Linked DNA regions of Homo sapiens. The protein of the gene in region 1 purifies or fractionates together with the protein of each later gene. This does not show direct contact. Each region holds a gene or a part of one and is shown in the gene's direction. Other genes may lie near its edges.

What was found. The genes of interacting proteins can lie anywhere in the genome.
Region 2: the proteins of PGK1 (region 1) and AKR1A1 fractionate together in Homo sapiens (co-fractionation; one large-scale study listed by BioGRID). This does not show direct contact.
Region 3: the proteins of PGK1 (region 1) and MAPK13 purify together in Homo sapiens (co-immunoprecipitation; one large-scale study listed by IntAct). This does not show direct contact.
Region 4: the proteins of PGK1 (region 1) and RAB11FIP5 fractionate together in Homo sapiens (co-fractionation; one large-scale study listed by BioGRID). This does not show direct contact.

The regions. Positions count from the first base shown.
Region 1 is NC_000023.11:78,107,204-78,112,348, forward strand, and holds part of PGK1 (phosphoglycerate kinase 1), read left to right. Parts: intron 1-2,663; coding exon 2,664-2,714; intron 2,715-5,145. UniProt on the Homo sapiens protein: Catalyzes one of the two ATP producing reactions in the glycolytic pathway via the reversible conversion of 1,3-diphosphoglycerate to 3-phosphoglycerate.
Region 2 is NC_000001.11:45,563,504-45,567,825, forward strand, and holds part of AKR1A1 (aldo-keto reductase family 1 member A1), read left to right. Parts: intron 1-3,065; coding exon 3,066-3,185; intron 3,186-3,365; coding exon 3,366-3,517; intron 3,518-4,322. UniProt on the Homo sapiens protein: Catalyzes the NADPH-dependent reduction of a wide variety of carbonyl-containing compounds to their corresponding alcohols.
Region 3 is NC_000006.12:36,132,691-36,137,012, forward strand, and holds part of MAPK13 (mitogen-activated protein kinase 13), read left to right. Parts: intron 1-3,062; coding exon 3,063-3,171; intron 3,172-3,328; coding exon 3,329-3,358; intron 3,359-3,793; coding exon 3,794-3,841; intron 3,842-3,965; coding exon 3,966-4,080; intron 4,081-4,188; coding exon 4,189-4,260; intron 4,261-4,322. UniProt on the Homo sapiens protein: Serine/threonine kinase which acts as an essential component of the MAP kinase signal transduction pathway.
Region 4 is NC_000002.12:73,088,949-73,093,270, reverse strand, and holds part of RAB11FIP5 (rab11 family-interacting protein 5), read left to right. Parts: intron 1-3,955; coding exon 3,956-4,322. UniProt on the Homo sapiens protein: Rab effector involved in protein trafficking from apical recycling endosomes to the apical plasma membrane. Involved in insulin granule exocytosis. May regulate V-ATPase intracellular transport in response to extracellular acidosis.

The DNA.
Region 1 (5,145 bases):
TCCCCCAATGGATGCATCTTACCTAATTATAGAACAATATCAAAAGTAGGAAATTGACATTGGTATAAAGTGTGTATGGTTCTATGCCATTTTATTACGTGCGTAGATTTGTGTAACCGCCACCACAATCAAGATACAGAACTATTAGATCACCACCAAGATCTCCTTCATGCTACCTCTTTATAATAATAACCACCCCCCTTCCTGACTCCTGGTAACTACTGATCTGTCCACTGTTTCTAAAATTTTGTCACTTCAAAAATACTATACAGATTGAATCACATGGTATATAACCTTTTGGGATTAACTTTTTTCACTTAGCATAATGTCCTCAAAATTTATCCACATTGTCACATGTATCAAAAGTTCATACCTGTGTATTGCTGAGTAGTATTCCATGGTGTGGTTGTATTATAGTTTGTTTAACTATCATTGAAGGATATTAGGGTTGTTTCTGATTTGGGGCTATTACAAATACAGCTGCTGTGAACATTTGTATACAAGTCTTGGTATGGACATACGCTGTCATTTTTCATGGGTAAACACCTAGGAGTGGAATTGCTGGGCCACGTCCTTTTGAGGTATCCCCAGACTGTTTTCCAAGGTGGCTGCAGCATTTCACATTTCTACCAGCAGTATTTGAGTAATCAGTTTCTCTGCTTCATTACCAGCTATTTTAGTTATTTTTCGTTCTGATGGATATGTAGTAATAACTGACTTTGTGCCTGAAGCAAAGCTCAGGGGTGTTATAAGGAAACGAAAAAAAAAAAAAAGAAAATTGTGCATATTTTATGTAAAATGGAACAAGTAGAATCTGTAGGCAAGAGCAGTTCCTGTGTTGGAGTCCTCTGAGGAGAAGCTAAAAGCAGAGCTGTTGTGAGTGTAGGAGATAAGGGGAGGTAATCCAGAGGGCATTGAGGAGAGAGTATCAACCAAGTCTAATTCATTAGTAAGCTGACACCATGGCAGCTTGGATAGATGAGACAGTTTCTTAGGTGTCTCTGTCCAAAGATATTCCTCCCTGTAAGGGTTGGGGGTAGAGAGTAGCACTGCAAGAAGTGGCTTGTGCCCATCCTTTTGCCATTAGTCCTTTTGAGCATAGGCCTTCTGGGAGGTTGCATGGGGGAAAATGACCCATGGTAATGGGATATTCTCTCTTCTTTGGAATGTACTTTAAGGCTGGCAGGCTCCTTGTTCAGGATATTTAAAGAAGACAGAGAATCAAGTGGCCTGAAACAAAGTAGAGTGTATTTCTTTCATCAGAGGCTTACTGCCTTTAATTTTGAAGACTTTAAAACATGTTTTACTATAGAATTATTTTTCCTCAGCCTACCTTTGGAAAGGCTGTTCTTCAGTGAGGTAGATTGGAGTTCAGGCCTAGTGGATATAGGAAATTGGTGGTCTTCTCAGTATGTCTGTAGGAGTTTGTAATTGCCTTAGCCTTAGAGAGGAAGGGGTATTTAAAAAGGCAGAGGAAAAAGATGGAGGCTTATAATCAAGGATAGCAGCAGTCTTCTTGATTAGGTCATACTTCACTGTAGTCCCTTTGCAAGTGATGTTAGCTGTTTTTAGTAGTGGTTGATTTACTTGTCAAATCACAGAATTACATTTTGGAGAAACATATAACAACAACACTTTTATGGCATTTACTGTGTGTCAGGTACACTTCTAAGCACTTTACAAATTGCTGACTTACTAATTCTCTCAGTAACTACGAGGTAGATACTGTCATCCCGATGAGAAAAAAATCACTTAAAAATAATCATGGCAGGCACAACTCTTAAACCTTAAAAATAGCTGCCATACATTATTGTTTTCATTCACATTGAAGTAGGCTGAGGTTCCAAGGAGTTCAGAATAATTGGTTCTTAAGAATGATAACATAGTAATCTGTTGGGTAAGAGATACTGCAGTACATTATTTTCTTGTGTCGTCTTGATTACTTCCCTTCTAATTTGCCTGTTTGTCAGGTGGGCTGGGGCACATGTCCCACCCTCTCTTCTCAGGCTTTTTGAAAGAGGCTGTCTTATGTTGTGTGTATTGCTTGAAGGACCCCTAGTCTTAAGGCCCCAGGCTTTCTCCAAAAAGAATGATTTTCTCTTAGTGTGTTTTATTTTTATTTTAATTTTTTTCTCGAGTCATGTTAGTTTCACGAGGACCCAGAAATAGTATCAAGGGAATTAGGATCAAGATGCATTCCTTATTATTCCTCACCCCTCTAGCTGCTACCCGGATACTATTGTGCCAGGCCCAGACAGATATCTTTTTAGGTGGAACTAGCTTTAGCTTCCCAGATCTTCAGGGCTAGTTCCTGTGATTTAAGTTAGGTTTTTTTTTTAAAATTCTTTTTAAAGTATGAATACATACCTAAAAGGGCACAAATCACAAGTTCAAAGAATTACCACAAAATGAGCACATTTGTATGGTCACTGAGGTTAAGAGATAGAACATTACCAGAACCCCAAAGCCTCTGGTGTCGTTATCCCAGTCACCACTCCCGCCATCCTCCCCATGACTAACCACTATTTTGACTTTTAATGCCACTGATTATTTTTAAGATGAGATTTGAATTTCTGACTTATTTAACTGGTTCATTAAAAATGCATCTCCTAGTCTTTGATGGAACAGTAAGTTGATCATGGTCTTGCATCTTTCTTTTTTAGAGTCGACTTCAATGTTCCTATGAAGAACAACCAGATAACAAACAACCAGAGGTAAGGTCCCTGCTAATCCTTGGGCTGGGTTTAAGATGTGTGTAGGTACACAGGATGAAATGTTTTTCCTTTCATATTGTATTATGGAACTGTAGCAACTTAAAACAAATGATTTTGGCTTTCTATCAACCCACTCTCTGATCTGCTTTCTTATTTATGAGAATATACAAATATAAGCAAAATCTTAAGAAAGTGATTCCCCTTCCCTTGTTTTTTGAAAATTAGAAGAATTTGGAGTTCATTTTCTTTTTTTGAGATAGGGTCTCACTCTGTCACCCAGACTGGAGTGTAGTGGTGTGATCACGGTTCACTGCAGCCTTAACCTTCTGGGCTCAAGCAGTCCTCTGGCCTCAGCTTCCCGAGGAGCTGGAACAACAGGTGCACACCACTACACCTGGTTAAATTAAAAAAAAATTTTTTTTTGTAGAGATGGGGTCTCACTATGTTGCCTAGGCTGTTCTCAAACTCCTGGACTCAAGTGATCCTCCTGCCTTGGCTTCCTAAAGTGCTGGGACCACAGGTGTAAGCCCCCATACCTGGCAGAGTTATTCATTTTTAAAGAATATAAAAGTTGGCTGGGTGCGGTGGCTCACATCTGTAATCCCAGCACTTTGGAAGGCCGAGGCAGGAGGATTGCTTGAGGCCAGTAGTTCGAGAACAGCCTGGCCAATATAGTAAGACACCATCTCTATAAAACACACACAAAAAATATAAAAATTTAAGGTTACTTGGCTTCTCTTGCAAAATGAAGAACTATGTAAGAGAAGGATTTTAAAAGTACCAGTAGTTACTAAGGTTATATGTAGTTTTACAAGCCCCCATTCAAATGGCTCAGATAAGTCAATTTTTGAGAATTTTCATTTGTTTTTGCTTCCAAAAAAACAAACAGGAAAGACTTCAGAAGTACGTTTTCAGTCAGTTTAGCTGCTCCAGTGTCTTGGATCCTAGATTCAGAAACAAATTTTAAGTGAGAGTACTGCTCTTGCTTTTGACTAGATTATAAAAGGTCTTTATTTTTGTCTTTACTTTCTTTTTAATTTTTTTAATTTTTAATTTTTGTAGATTTTATATATATATATATATGGGTTACATGAGATATTTTGATAAAAGCATGCAATACATAATCACATCAGGTTAAATGGGGTATCCATCAAGAAGGTTTTTATTTAATTTTTTTTTTTTTTTGAGACAGGGCCTCGTTCTGTCGCCCAGGCTGGAGTGCAGTGGCACGATCTTGGCTCACTGCAATCTCTGCCTCCTGGGCTCAAGCGATCCTCCCATCTCAGCCTCCCAGGGAGCTGAGACCACAGGCGTGGGCCACCACACCTGGCTACTTTTTCATATTTTTTTTGTAGAGACAGCGTTTTGCCCTTTTGCCCAAGCTGGCCTTGAGCTCCTGGACCCCGCCCACCTTGGCCTCCCAAAGTGCTGGGAATACAGGCATGAGTCACTGTGCTCCGCCTATTTTAAATTTTAAATGAAGGGTTTGTGTTGGCAAGGTGCTTTCTAATGATCTAGACCAGTGGTATCTAATAGAAATACAATGTGAGCCAAATTGTGTTAATTAAATTAAAGGGACATTTAACTTTTTTGGTACTAAGTCTTCAAGATCTGGCATGTGTTTTTATACTACAGCACATCTCAATTTGATCTAGTTATATATCTGGTACTCAACAGACACACATGACTAAATGACTGTCGTAATGGACAGTGCAGGTCTAGCCCAGAACATTTTCAGGTATTGGTCCTAGAATAGAGCCTGTCATTTTGCCAAGCACATCCCTGCTGTACCATAGTGGCAGGGTCTTTGTATAAGGCAGATCTGATCCCGCTTGATCTTCATTATTGTGCAACACACAGAAACGATTGGAAATATGCCTATCAAGTTATTTTAAGAGTAAAGAAACATGTTTGGAAATCTTTTCATTTCCGGAAATCCATGGAGTTGATTAACAAAATGAAGCATTAGAAATAATAAAACTTGCTGATAAGGGATAGTCCTGAAAACTAATTGGTTCCATTGCACAAACTTTGTACCTGATACAGATTTTTAAATTTGATATAAAGGAGTTCTTATATCTGCTAAATATTAATAACATAAGATATTTTAAAAGTATAACTTTTTTAATCATTCCATTCTTTGCTCAGATGTCATCATATCAGACTTTCCCTGGCCATCCTGTCTAAAAATCTCCTCTACCATTGTTCCCCGGTCATTTTTGTCCTCAAAAGTAGGGGAACAAAAATGGGGAACAATGGTTTGTTTTTTTTCTGTATCTCACCATCTGATATATTACATGTACGCACACACACATACATGTTTATTGTCTCTCTCCATTAGAATTTCACTTCCATGAGAACAGAGAGTTTTTAAAAAAGTTTTCTGTTTCATTCTCAGAACCTGGAATGATGCCTGGCACAAAAGAAGCAT
Region 2 (4,322 bases), on another chromosome or scaffold:
CTTAAGCTGGGTGTGGTGGCTCATGCCTGTAATCCCAGCACTTTGGGAGGCTGAGGCAGGCGGATCACCTGAGGTTGGGAGTTCGAGACCAGCCTGACCAACACGGAGAAACCTCATCTCTACTAAAAATGCAAAATTAGCCAGGCGTGGTGGTGCATGCCTGTAATCCCAGCTACTCAGGAGTCTGAGGCAGGAGAATCACTTGAATCCGGGAGGCGGAGGTTGCAGTGAGCCGAGATCGTGCCATTGCACTCCAGCCTGGGCAACAAGAGCAAAACTGCGTCCCAAGAAAAATAATAATAAAATAAATAAGTAACCACTTAAAAATATAAATGTAGTTCTTAACTCAAGAACTGTTAAAGTTGATAATTGACTGACCCCTGGTGTAGACCATCCCAGCTGAGGGGAGTCTGGGAATATGGACCTGCTCTCTCAGGGTGGACGTAGCTATGAGATTTGGCTCCTGCCTGGAATGGGGCATTTCCCCAGGGCTTCTTCCTTCTTCCTTGGAAATCTTGAGTCAGAGTGAAGAGAAGTTTGGGGATTAAGTTTCAGAGAAGCCCCAGCAGAGAGAACAGATTCTTCTATCTGGGATTTAGACTGATGTTTGTGGTGTGCTTGGATGACCTGTGTCTCTTTTCCCTTTTGCTTTCTTTCCTATAGCTGCCAAGGAGCCTGGAGCCAGGGTCCCTGTGCTTTAGGCAGGCACTTCTCACAGCCTCGGAGAAGTCCAGGAGCTAGGTCAAGGCAGAGGGTTGGGGGCCACAGACAAGGCCAAGGCGGGGCATGGAACAGCAGGGGTCAGATGTTAGGGGAAGTACGTCGGCACCCGGGTGGGGATCTTGAATACTATGTCAGGCACCCACAACAAGAGCTTTGGGTGCTTTGTGTCTAGGGCCGGGTACCCTTGTTTCTGCTGCTGATGCCGTGTTTCCAGTCTGGATTTTAGCAAAATTAACTGACCCATCCTTCTATCTGATGCCTGTTTTCTTCTCTCTCATTAGGGAGTTCTGGGTCCAGCTTTTAGCCCACTTATCTGCCTCCAGCTTTCAGCCTACTTATCTGCCTTCCTTAATCTTTTCCCCCTTCTAACCTCTTTTGCTGGCCTGTGCTCCCAGAGTTCCCAGAGTCTGTCTACACAACTCCCTGTATGTCCTTGGCCTAGGAATTTTTTCCTGTGTTTCTCTAACCAGCTCCTTAGAACCTGGAACTTGTTTCCATGGTCTATACTTCTTTTCTCTATTTATCCATCTGTCTTCTGATTGAAAAAAAAAATTATTTATTTTTGAAAATTTTTAAATTTTTATTTATTTATTTATTTATTTAATTTTATTTTTGAGATGGAGTCTTGCTCTGTCGCCCAGGCTGGAGTGCAGTGGCGCAATCTCGCCTCACTGCAAGCTCCGCCTCCTAGGTTCACACCATTCTCCTGCCTCAGCCTCCTGAGTAGCTGGGACTACAGGCACCCCCTACCACGCCCAGCTAATTTTTTGTATTTTTAGTAGAGACGGTGTTTCACCGTGTTAGCCAGGATGGTCTCGATCTCCTGACCTCATGATCCACCCACCTCAGCCTCCCAAAGTGCTGGGACTACAGGCGTGAGCCACCACACCCAGCCATTTTTTTTTTTTTTTTTTTTTTTTTGAGAAGGAGTTTCACTCTTGTTGCCCAGGCTGGAGTGCAATGGCATGATCTTGGCTCACTGTAACCTCCACCTCCCAGGTTCAAGCGATTCTCCTGCCTCAGCCTCCCAAGTACCCGGGATTATAGGCATGCACCACCACGCCCAGCTAATTTTGTATTTTTAGTAGAGACGGGGTTTCTCCGTGTTGGTTAGGCTGGTCTCAAACTCCCGACCTCAGGTGATCCACCCACCTCGGCCTCCCAAAGTGCTGGGATTACAGGTGTGAGCCACCGCGCCTGGCTTTTATTTAAAAAAAAAAATTTGTTTTCAATTTTTTGTTGTTATTTTTTTTGTGTTTTTTTGAGACGGAGTCTCACTCTGTCTCGCCCAGGATGAAGTGCAGTGGCATGATCTCAGCTCACTGCAGCCTCCCCCGCCTGGGTTCAAGCGATTCTCCTATCTCAGCCTCCTGAGTAGCTGGGACTACAGGCATATGCCACCATGCACAGCTAATTTTTGTATTTTTAGTAGAGAAAAGAATTTCACCATGTTGGCCAGGCTGGTCTCAAACCCCTGACCTCAGGTGATTCACCTGCCTCTTCTTCCCAAAGTGCTGGGATTATAGGCGTGAGCCACCACGCCTGGCCTTAATTTTTTTTTTTTTTTTAAAGAGGTGGGGGTCTCACTATGTTGACTAGGCTGGTCTTGAACTTCTGCCTTCAAGCAATGCTCCCATGTCAGCCTCCCAGAGTCCTAGGATTACAGGCGTGAGCCACTGTGCTCAGCCTGAAAAAATATTTACTGAAGCCCTCTTTATGGTAGATGCCGGGAAAATATTGTTAGTTTTTGCTAGACCTTGCTGAGATGGCTTGGGTAGGAAGGCATCTTAGAGACTGGTTGGGGTGGGAGCAGAGCAAAGGGTTTGGAGCCTCTGAAGAGGCTTCTGGTCCCTTAGACTGAAACCATCTTCCATCTTTTTTTTTTTCTTTCTTTGTTTTGAGATGGAGTTTCGCTCTTGTTGCCGAGGCTGAAGTGCAGTGGCACAATCTCAGCTCACTGCAACCTCTGCCTCCTGGGTTCAAGTGATTCTCCTGCCTCAGCCTCCTGAGTAGCTGGGATTACAGGCACCTGCCACCACACCTGGCTAATTTTGTATTTTTAGCAGAGATGGGGTTTCACCATGTTGGCCAGGCTGACCTCCAGCTGGCCAGGCTGGTCTCGAACTCCTGACCTCAGGGGATCTGCCCACCTCAGCCTCCCAAAGTGCTGGGATTACAGGCGTGAGCCACCGCGCCCAGTTCATCTTCCATCTTTTCACCTCCACTGCATAGATGTGCCTGTTATATTTCTGAGCCCCCTTCCCCCAGCATTGACCTTGGGGTGGTGACAGTAGAAGGCTGAAACCAACATAGCTGAAACCTCTGCTTCTCTCACCTGGCAGGTAAAAGCAGCTGTTAAGTATGCCCTTAGCGTAGGCTACCGCCACATTGATTGTGCTGCTATCTACGGCAATGAGCCTGAGATTGGGGAGGCCCTGAAGGAGGACGTGGGACCAGGCAAGGTAAGGACTGGGGTTGTAAATAGAGGTGGGATAAGAGAACTTAGAAGCTGAAGCTAGGGCTGGGGCCCAGCTGGAGGGAATCTGGCATCAGCTTCCTTCCAGTTCCTCTCCCAGAGTTGAGGGTGGGTGAGACCACGTGCTCATGGCTCTTCTCACTGTGGGCCCTGCCCCCTGCACTAGGCGGTGCCTCGGGAGGAGCTGTTTGTGACATCCAAGCTGTGGAACACCAAGCACCACCCCGAGGATGTGGAGCCTGCCCTCCGGAAGACTCTGGCTGACCTCCAGCTGGAGTATCTGGACCTGTACCTGATGCACTGGCCTTATGCCTTTGAGTGAGCCTTGCCAGAGCCTCATCTGGGGAATCAGGGGGTTGAGCAGGATGGTGTTAGTAACTTATTGTAAGTCACAGCAGCAGAGCAGGATAGGAACACTCATTTGCATGCCAAGCTGAGGAGCTTGACATGGGATCTTAGCCTCTTCTGCTACAGCAGCTTAGCTGTAGCTACAGGAGTTTAACTCTGGAAAAAGGAAGGCAGTCTCACATGGTGTGTACCCCAGGGTATGCACCTGTAACCCTCCTGCTCCCTTTATTCATTTAGAAAAGGTGCTGACTTTTCTGTTGAGCACCTGGGGTTACAGTAATAAGTAAGTCTCAGCAGAAGATGTGAGAAGAGCTCACCATTAGTGCCGTGCCCTGTGCTGGAAGAAGGGTGGATAACTCCCTGAGGATGAGTTAAGGAAGACTTCCTAGGGGAGAGGAGATATCTACGTCTAGGAAGAGGAGGGGGCATAGGCATTCCATGTAAACTTAACACCTGGGTTACGATCTGGAAGGATGAAAAAGCATGGCTTTTTTTGGCCAGGCGCGGTGGCTCACGCCTGTAATCCCAGCACTTTGGGAGGCTAAGGCGGGCGGATCACGAGGTCAGGAGATCGAGATCATCCTGGCTAACACGGTGAAACCCCGTCTCTACTAAAAATACAAAAAATTAGCTGCGCGTGGTGGTGAGCGCCTGTAGTCCCAGCTACTGGGGAGGCTGAGGCAGGAGAATGGCGTGAACCCAGGAGGTGGAGCTTGCAGTGAGCTGAGATAGTGCCACTGCACTCCAGCCTGGGCGGTAAAGCGAGACTCCATCT
Region 3 (4,322 bases), on another chromosome or scaffold:
TGCACTGGGTTCTGGGGCATTTGCAGGCCTTACATGCCGCTGGGGAGCAAGGTGGGGGAGGGTCTAGGGTTTCTATTCCGGGTGTGGCGGGGAGAGCCTCCTTCCCTGGCAGTCCTGTGCCTTTGCCTGTCAAGTGTGATTCTCTCTGGAAAGATGCTTTTAGCCAAAGGCAGGCAGGAAGAGGCAGGAAGGACTTTGTGGGGTGCTTGCCTGGCAGGGGGCAGTCTGCACAGCTGCTTTGCTTTTTACCCAGCTTTAACACCATGAAGACACATCTGCCAGTCCTCACAGGGTTAGCACCAACTCACCTTTCCTGGGGACACAGATGTGAGTCTGGACCTTGGAGCTCTTTCTAGCATGAAGCAAGGATTAAGAAGCCTTGGCTGCCTCTGGCTGATGGGGGTGTTTGACAGAATGGCAGAAAACCAGAATATTTAGCTGCAAAATGTATAGCTTTGCCTGTGCAGTGTCTGAATGAGACTGGACTATTTGGACAAGATGGAGAAGTCAGTGTGGCACGTGGAGGCCAGCAGCTGGCTTGGTCAAGCTGAATCTGGACTGACCCTACAGGCAGCCTCAAGACCTGGGGACTTTGAGCCGGGAGGTGATATGTTCAGATGGGATTTGGGGGATGCACACTGGCAGCAGCAAGAAAGGAGTAGGAAGCAGCTCGGAGGCAGAGGGGGAGAGCCTGGAGGTCAGTGTTAGTGATCTAAAGTAGGGATCTAAAGCAGAGGTGATGGGATGCCAAGAGCAGACTTGAGGCCCCATTTGGGAGGCAGGGCCGACACAATGTTCCATCTGTTGGGGTGCAGTAGCTGAGTGAGGTGGCAGAGGTGGAGGAATGGGCAGGTTCCTGCTTGAAATACACGGTAGAGGAAGAACAGATCTTGGGGGAAAGATAACGAACTCCATTTTGGACACTTTACTTTTAAAGAAACTGTGAACATTCCAATGTTTAATCACAGTTGCAAATAAATATGAACCTCAGGAGACGAAGGTCTGGGCTAGGGATGTGGATTTGTGCTGGAATAATCACCGATGGGTTATAGCTGACACCCGGGAACAGATAATTGTAGAATGTGGTAAGATAGTATTGATTCAGATATCAACATGAAAGAGAAGATCCAAGAGGATGAGCAGATGGAAGAAGCTGAGAGGGCCTGATAGGAGGCAGAGGAGAGTCAGCAAAGAATTGAGAGGGAGTTTCAGACTTGGTGAAAGGTTAGATCAGAAGAAAAGGGAGTCATGGTGTGTTTGTCGGGTGTTCACTGGTGACCTTGAGCTGAGCAGTCTGGCAGTAGGAGGGAAGCAGAAACCAGGTTAACTCAGGACTGGGAGGTAAGGCAGTGGGATCCAGGAGTGTGGACCGCCCTTTCTAGAAGTTTGGTGGTGAGAGAGGGAGAAGGGGTGGTCAGTTGAAGAAGCAAAGTCAAGGGAATGTGGTTCTAGCACAGAGAGGCTTCAGGAAGCATGTTGCCAAGATGAAAGAACCAGTGCCCGAGTGGAGGGGAAAGACACAGGAGGGGACTGGGCATGGAGAGGCCCCCAAGGGAGGTGTGTGGTCCGGCAGGAGAGGGCTGCCAAAATCCAGAGTCTCCTGGAGATGCCTCCAGCATGTCCTTTCAAAAACAACAACAACAACAACAACAAAAAACACAACCTATTACATAATTGTTTAAGGTAACATTCATTTTAAAAAAGTTTTAAATTTATTATATTCTAGAGATAGGGCTGGGTTGCCCAGACTGGAGTGCAGTGGCACAAACACAGTTCACTGCAGCCTCCAACTCCTAGGCTCAAGCCATCCTCCCGCCTCAGCCCCCCAAGTAGGTGGGACTACAGATGCATGCCACCATGTCCAGCTTTTTGTTTTGTTTTAATTTTTATAGATATGGGGTCTCACTATGTTACTCATCCTGATCTCGAATTCCCGGCCTCAAGTGATCCTCCCACCTCAGCCTCTTGAGTAGCTAAGACTAAAGGTGCATGCCACCACACCTGGCTAATTTTTTTTTTTTTTTCTGAAAGGTGGGGTCCAGGCCGGGCATGGTGGCTCACGCCTGTAATCCCAGCACTTTGGGAAGCCGAGGCAGGCAGATCACCTGAGGTCAGGAGTTCGAGACCAGCCTGGCCAACATGGCAAAACCCCGTCTCTACTAAGAATACAAAAATTAGCTGGGCGTTCTGGCGTGCACCTGTAGTTGTAGCTACTCAGGGAAGCTGAGGCAGGAAAATCGCTTGAACCTGGGAGGTGGAGGTTGCAGTGAGCCAAGATCACGCCACTGCACTCTAGCCTGGGCGACAGAGCAAGACTCCATCTCAAAGAAAAAAAGAAAGGAAGAAAGAAAGATGGGTCCCTATGTTGCTCAGGCTGGTCTTAAACTCTTCGCCTCAAGCGATCGTCCAGCCTCCATCTCCCAAAGCACTGGGATTGGAGGTATGCCCCTGGCCTATTTTATAATTTTTATTATTTTTTGTCTTTGTCCTGGTCTTTGCTTTTACTGTAACAGTTACATTTTGCTGGCCTTATCCTGTTGTGCAATCCCCTAAGAGGCTGCAGGAGCCTCCCCATCTCCCTCTTCCACCCTCCTGGAAACTGTTGTATTGTTTCCTTCTTGGAAAGGTAGACATATTGTTTGTTTGTGGAGCCATCTCAGCTGGGCATGACCCTCTGAGGGATCAAATATTTGGACAGAAGCCGAAGGAAATACTGGCAGATGTTTCTAACTCCTAGCTGTGGCTTTCCCTGGGGTGTGGAGGAGGGCAAGGAGAGAGTACCTTTGAAGAGCGGGAACACAGTTCCATGTGGCTTTCCTGAGCGCGCTCCAACTGCAGCGCTTACTCCGAGCTCTGCCAGCTGGGCGGCCCGCCACAGGGAGACTGGGAGCCAGGAGCCCAGAGGCCCGTGTGGTGATCTGGCTGGCTGAGGTGGAGTTGAGTTTTTGCACACTGGAGGGTGTCTCTATGACCCCTGTTCTGCCCTGAGGTCCCTCCTCTGAGCTCTGACCTGGGGCTGGGTGGGACCCGGCACTGTTCCAAGAACCCCTCATGCCTTCCAGCTACCTGGTGATGCCCTTCATGCAGACGGATCTGCAGAAGATCATGGGGATGGAGTTCAGTGAGGAGAAGATCCAGTACCTGGTGTATCAGATGCTCAAAGGCCTTAAGGTGGGTGGGGACTTGGAGGCTGGCAGAGGGGACGCCTTGCTGTCTAGACCTGAGGTTTGGGGAGGCTGGAGGGAGCGCACTGTTACAGGTCGGCCAGCCTGAAGTGCCTGGTGTGGAAGCTGGGCCATGGACTCACCCTTCTCTCTCTCCCACATAGTACATCCACTCTGCTGGGGTCGTGCACAGGGTGAGTGCTTTCTCTGCCATGGTCCTCAGAGGCCCCTGTCCCATCCCTGGGTATGGGGTTCTCTGGCAATCAAGGAGTGGGAAAGTTGGAGGGAGGGGACACTGCCCAGGAGCACAGAATGTGGAGTTTTCACACCCAGCCACGGCCCAGGAAGGCCTGCTCAAAAGAGTCACTGTGTCCCAGGGGACTTCATGGGGAATTGCTGCAGACAAAGTGAGCCCTGAGCTGAGTGTTTCAGGCTTCAAGAATCAGGAACATTTTAGAGCTGGGTGGGCCCTGAGAGAACACCTAGTCCAACCCTCATTTTACACATGAAGAAACTGAGGCCCAGAAGGGGAAGGGGCCTGGCTGAGGTCACACCCCTGGGTGGTGGTGGAGCTAGGACAAGCTCCATCTCTGCCTCAGCCTAGCATGCATTCTCTGTCCTCCCCCCAGGACCTGAAGCCAGGCAACCTGGCTGTGAATGAGGACTGTGAACTGAAGGTGAGTGGGCTGCAGGCTCAGCCCAGAGGCGGGATAGGCCCTCCCCCAGGGAAGCCCCTGGAAGCCGCTCCCAGAGCCTCCTCCCCTCAGCAAGTTCCTTTTCTATTTATCCCCTGTGCCATAGATTCTGGATTTTGGGCTGGCGCGACATGCAGACGCCGAGATGACTGGCTACGTGGTGACCCGCTGGTACCGAGCCCCCGAGGTGATCCTCAGCTGGATGCACTACAACCAGACAGGTCAGTGGTCAATGCCTGAGAGGGCGGTCCTGGGGCCATCTGGTCACTCGGTGCTGACTGACTGCTGGGCCCCAGACAGTCCAGGTGACACTCTCCCTCCCTCTGCAGTGGACATCTGGTCTGTGGGCTGTATCATGGCAGAGATGCTGACAGGGAAAACTCTGTTCAAGGGGAAAGATTGTATCCTTTGCTGGAAAAGCCAAACTCCATCTAGGGATTCCTTCCTTCAACAGACACTTTAT
Region 4 (4,322 bases), on another chromosome or scaffold:
GCTTCCCAGAGGAGTGGGACTTGAACTAGGTCATAGGACCCTGCTGTCATATTCCCCGTGGGGGCTTCAGTCTCTAGGGATGAGGTGCTCAGAGCCCATTTGCTCTGCTGCGTGTGGGGCTCTGTGAAAAGAAAGCCTCCATTTGTTTTCATTGCGGATTCCTCAGCCCCCCTCGACAGTGTTCATAGTTTTCCATTCTCCAGTGGACCTCCATGGTGCCCGACAGGTCTGTGGGGCTGTCTGGTCCAGGCACAGGGAAGTAGCACCTCTAGGGAGGGGGAGGATGTGGCCATCTCAGCTCATGTAGGCCATACTTCTGGGAGAAGGTCTGCTCTGGTTGAGTCCCTGGGGTGCCCAGGGTGGCCAAGGTGCCAGGCAGTATCCCATTCAGTCCTGCCCTTGACTGGGTTGCAGAGGGAGGTGGGGCTGGAAGGGAGGTGGACGAGTGATGGCAGCTGGGGTCCAGAGGTAGGTCCTGGCCATTCTCCATTTCACTGTGCTCTGGATGGGAGAGCCTAAAAAATATTCAGGGAAGCTTTTTCTTTTTCCTTCCGTGCTTCCTTGAAAAACAAGTCCAGGGAGAAACCCAAATTCCCTGTGGGGGAGGGCTGGGCAGAACAGGAGAAGGGGAAGTGACCTTATAGGGGAGAGAGGCCCAAAAGGTCCTTGTGGCAAAGGACCTGAAACTCGGCCTCCCGCCTTCCTCTGAGGGCTGGGAGGCAGAGGAGCACGGCCCATTTTGTGGCTCAGGAAGCTGAGATGAGATAGGAGCAAGAGCTTTCCCTTGTCTCTTTTTCCTATTACCACAGTAATATATGCTCCTTATAAAACATTCAAATAGGACAAAAATAGACAATGTAGGAAGTGCTAGTTCCCTGCAATCTCACCACAGGGCCCCGGTCCCCTCAGGTAATTGCATTACCGCTGTGGTGTGTGCAGTGTGAGTAGCTGGGGCTGAGGGCCCCTGACCTGTCTGCCCCAGCAAAGGCTGGCTGTGCTTGCTGATCCTAGTTACTCAGGGCTTGGGCGGTTTGGGGCTGGAGTCCATACCCTTCTCTTTTGCCCTACCTCCCAGGACTTTCCTGTGCTAGATAGGGCCTAGCCCAGATTTAGGGAAAGTGACTAGGGCTTGGCCTCTAAATAGGTAAAGGGTCAGGCCCACGGTGGTCACTGGGCTGAGAACGTAGAGGTGTGAGGCTGTTGATGCTGCTGGCTGGTCTTTCTGTCAAACTTCCTCTCCTGCCCCACAGACACCCTCACATACATCCTCCAGTCTGTCTGTCTCAATTAGCCTCTCCTCCCCTCACTTCTGCCCGTGCCTTATGAGAGAGGCACCCGCTCGGGCATTTTCTCTGTCCGCCCTGCCTGTGGCACCATCTGTTCCTACCCGGCCTTCTCAGGGGATTGTCTCTCAGGTTTGGGAGGGAAAACCAAAGTCTAGGCTCAGGCCGCTCAGGCTGCGGAGTAGGTCTCCACGGAGGGGACGGGCCATAGCCCACCAGGATTTCGTCATGATGGGCTCTTCTATAGGGATGTAGAAGAGTCAGAGGTGCCCCAGGAAGCCTTTTTAAAAAAACTTCAACATTAAAAAATAATCAAAATACTACCACCACTACCACCAAGCTTTTGCTGTGACTTAATTCTGGATCTTTGGATGTATAGGGACTTTTCATACAAAGGCTCCCCACACCCCACTCTGTGTCCACCAGAAGCTCAGGGAGCTGGCATTGTTGGGGGCAGAGCTCAGGCGGGAGGTGGATCCTGCATCACTGACTGCGGCTTGGGTAGCTCTGTGTGCGTGTGTGTGTGTGTGTATGTGTGTGTGTGCTGTGCAGTCACCAAGGGACTTTGAGCCCTTTAGTGACCAGCCTGACCACTACCACCGGGCTTTATTCCACCTTCATGCTCGATTGGCTGGGTCTGGAATTCCAGGCTAGTGGAAGGCTTTTCCCTCAGAAATGTGAAGACATTCCTTCATGTGGTGCCCAGTGTTGCTAAGGAAGACTCCAGTGCTGTTCGAATCCTTTCATGCCTGGTGTTCTAAGCCTCATAGTCATATCTGTTGGCATGTGTCTGTCTTAGTTCATTGCGCTGCATACTTGTAGGACTGTTCTAGCATTCATGTTCTTCAGTTCAGAAAAACATTCTTGTATGATTTCCTTCATAGTTTCTTCCTTTTTGTGTTCCCTGCTCTCTTTTTTTTAGTTAATAAAGTCTATTTTTCAGAGCAGTTTTAAGTTTACAGAAAAACGAGTGAAAAGTATAGAGAGTTCCCATCTACTCCACCCACGCCCCCACCGCCATTTCTTCTGTTAACATCTTGCATTAGTGTGGCATGTTTGTTGTATTTGAGAGCCAATATCAACACGTCATTGTTAACTAGAGTCTATACATTATGTTAGGGTTCACTTGCTGTTTTGTGCATTCTGTGGGTGTATAACAATGCATGTCCACCATTACGGTAGCATGCAGGATAGTTTTTCTCTCCTGAGAAGTCCCTGTGCTCTGCCTATTCATCGCTCTGTCCTCTCTTCAATCCCCCAGCAACCACTGATCTTTTCACTGTCTCCATAGTTTTGCCTTTTGCAGAATGTCAAATAGTTTTGTCGTGCAAGCATGAAGCCTTTTCAGATTGTCTTCTTTCACTTATGTATGTAAGATCCATCCGTGTCTGTTCATGGCTTGATAGCCTATTTATTTTTATCATTAAGTAGTATTCCATTGTCTGGATGTACCACAGTTTGCTTATCTTTTCACCTACTGGAGGACACCTTGGCAGCTTCCAAGTTTTGGCAATCATGAACAGAGCTGCTATAAACATTTGTGTGCAGGGTGTTTCTTTGGACATAAGTCTTTACCTCAGTAGGCAAAGTACCAAGAAGTGTGATTGCTCCTTGTGTGATCGGAGTTTGCTTAGTTCTCTAAGAAACTGCCAACCCCTGCATAAGAACATCTCTCCCCAGTAGGGCGGGCCCCAGCCACCCTGTGTGGTGGCCATGTGTGTTGGGGGCTGTCTCTGTGTCTCTCTGGGCACAGTGGGTGTGCACCGGGAAGAACTTAAGCTTTGGAGGGCTGGACACCTGGCTCTGAGTCTCCACGGATGGGTTCCTTTACCACTGAGCCTCACCCTCCTGATCTGTACAATGGGGTAGTACCTCTTACCTCATATGCTTTTTGGGAGGTATGTGCGGGAGTGAGGTAAGAACCCTCATGCTGGTCGTAATGCACCATAGATGCTCAACAGATATGAGCGCTCTTCGTCTTTCCTGGGTCTCTTTCTGCCATTCTTGTCTGTTCCTGCATCTTGTAGAGGTATTCCTGACAGGGCTTGGGGTGAGTCAGTGTGTGAGTGAGGTGTGTGTGTGTGTGTGTGTGTGTGTGTGTGTGTATACATACATGAGTGTATGCACTAGCATTCCTGTGTTCCTGGCCCTGGGCCTCTGGGTGAGCTGTTCTTTCCTGGGCTCACGGTGGCTGGGAGCAGAGCTTTGGCTGGGACTGGCCAGAGGAGATGATGTCAACAGGGAGAAATGTGGGTAGGTCTGTCTGTGCTGGGGCCTGGAGATGGGAGGGCTCTCCCAGGCCCAGCCTCACCCCTCTGGGCCTCAGAGTTTCAGATGTAGGGGAGATGGGGCAGAGGAGAGGTCTCTGAGCACCAGGAGAAGGTCCTGGGGTGGGAGGAGGCATGGTGTGGTAACCGCCGCCCTACCTGGTGGCACCCGAGGAGCTTCCCCACTCAGGATGTGGTTTTCTCCATCATGGAAATGTTTTGGATAGTTTCTCAGCTGCATCTGAAGCCTGGAAGCCCAGGCCGATGGGTCAGAGCAGGAGCCTTTGGGGAGAGGCTATCAGTGGCTCTCAGAGCAAGGAGGGGTCTGGGCAGTGCCTGGTACCGGGCGGGAGCCAGGCTCCCTGGGCCCGTGACTGAGTTCTGCCTGCTCCCCTCTTCTCACAGGTGGTACAAGCTGCACTCCAAGCCAGGCAAGAAGGAGAAGGAACGCGGCGAGATTGAAGTCACCATCCAGTTCACGCGCAACAACCTGAGCGCCAGTATGTTTGACCTGTCCATGAAGGACAAGCCAAGGTCTCCCTTCAGCAAGATCAGGGACAAGATGAAGGGCAAGAAGAAGTATGATCTGGAATCTGCCTCTGCCATCCTCCCAAGCAGCGCCATAGAGGATCCTGACCTGGGCAGCCTGGGCAAGATGGGCAAAGCCAAAGGCTTCTTCCTCCGCAACAAGCTGCGCAAGTCGTCCCTGACCCAGTCCAACACCTCGCTGGGCTCGGACAGCACCCTGTCCTCAGCCAGCGGGAGCTTGGCC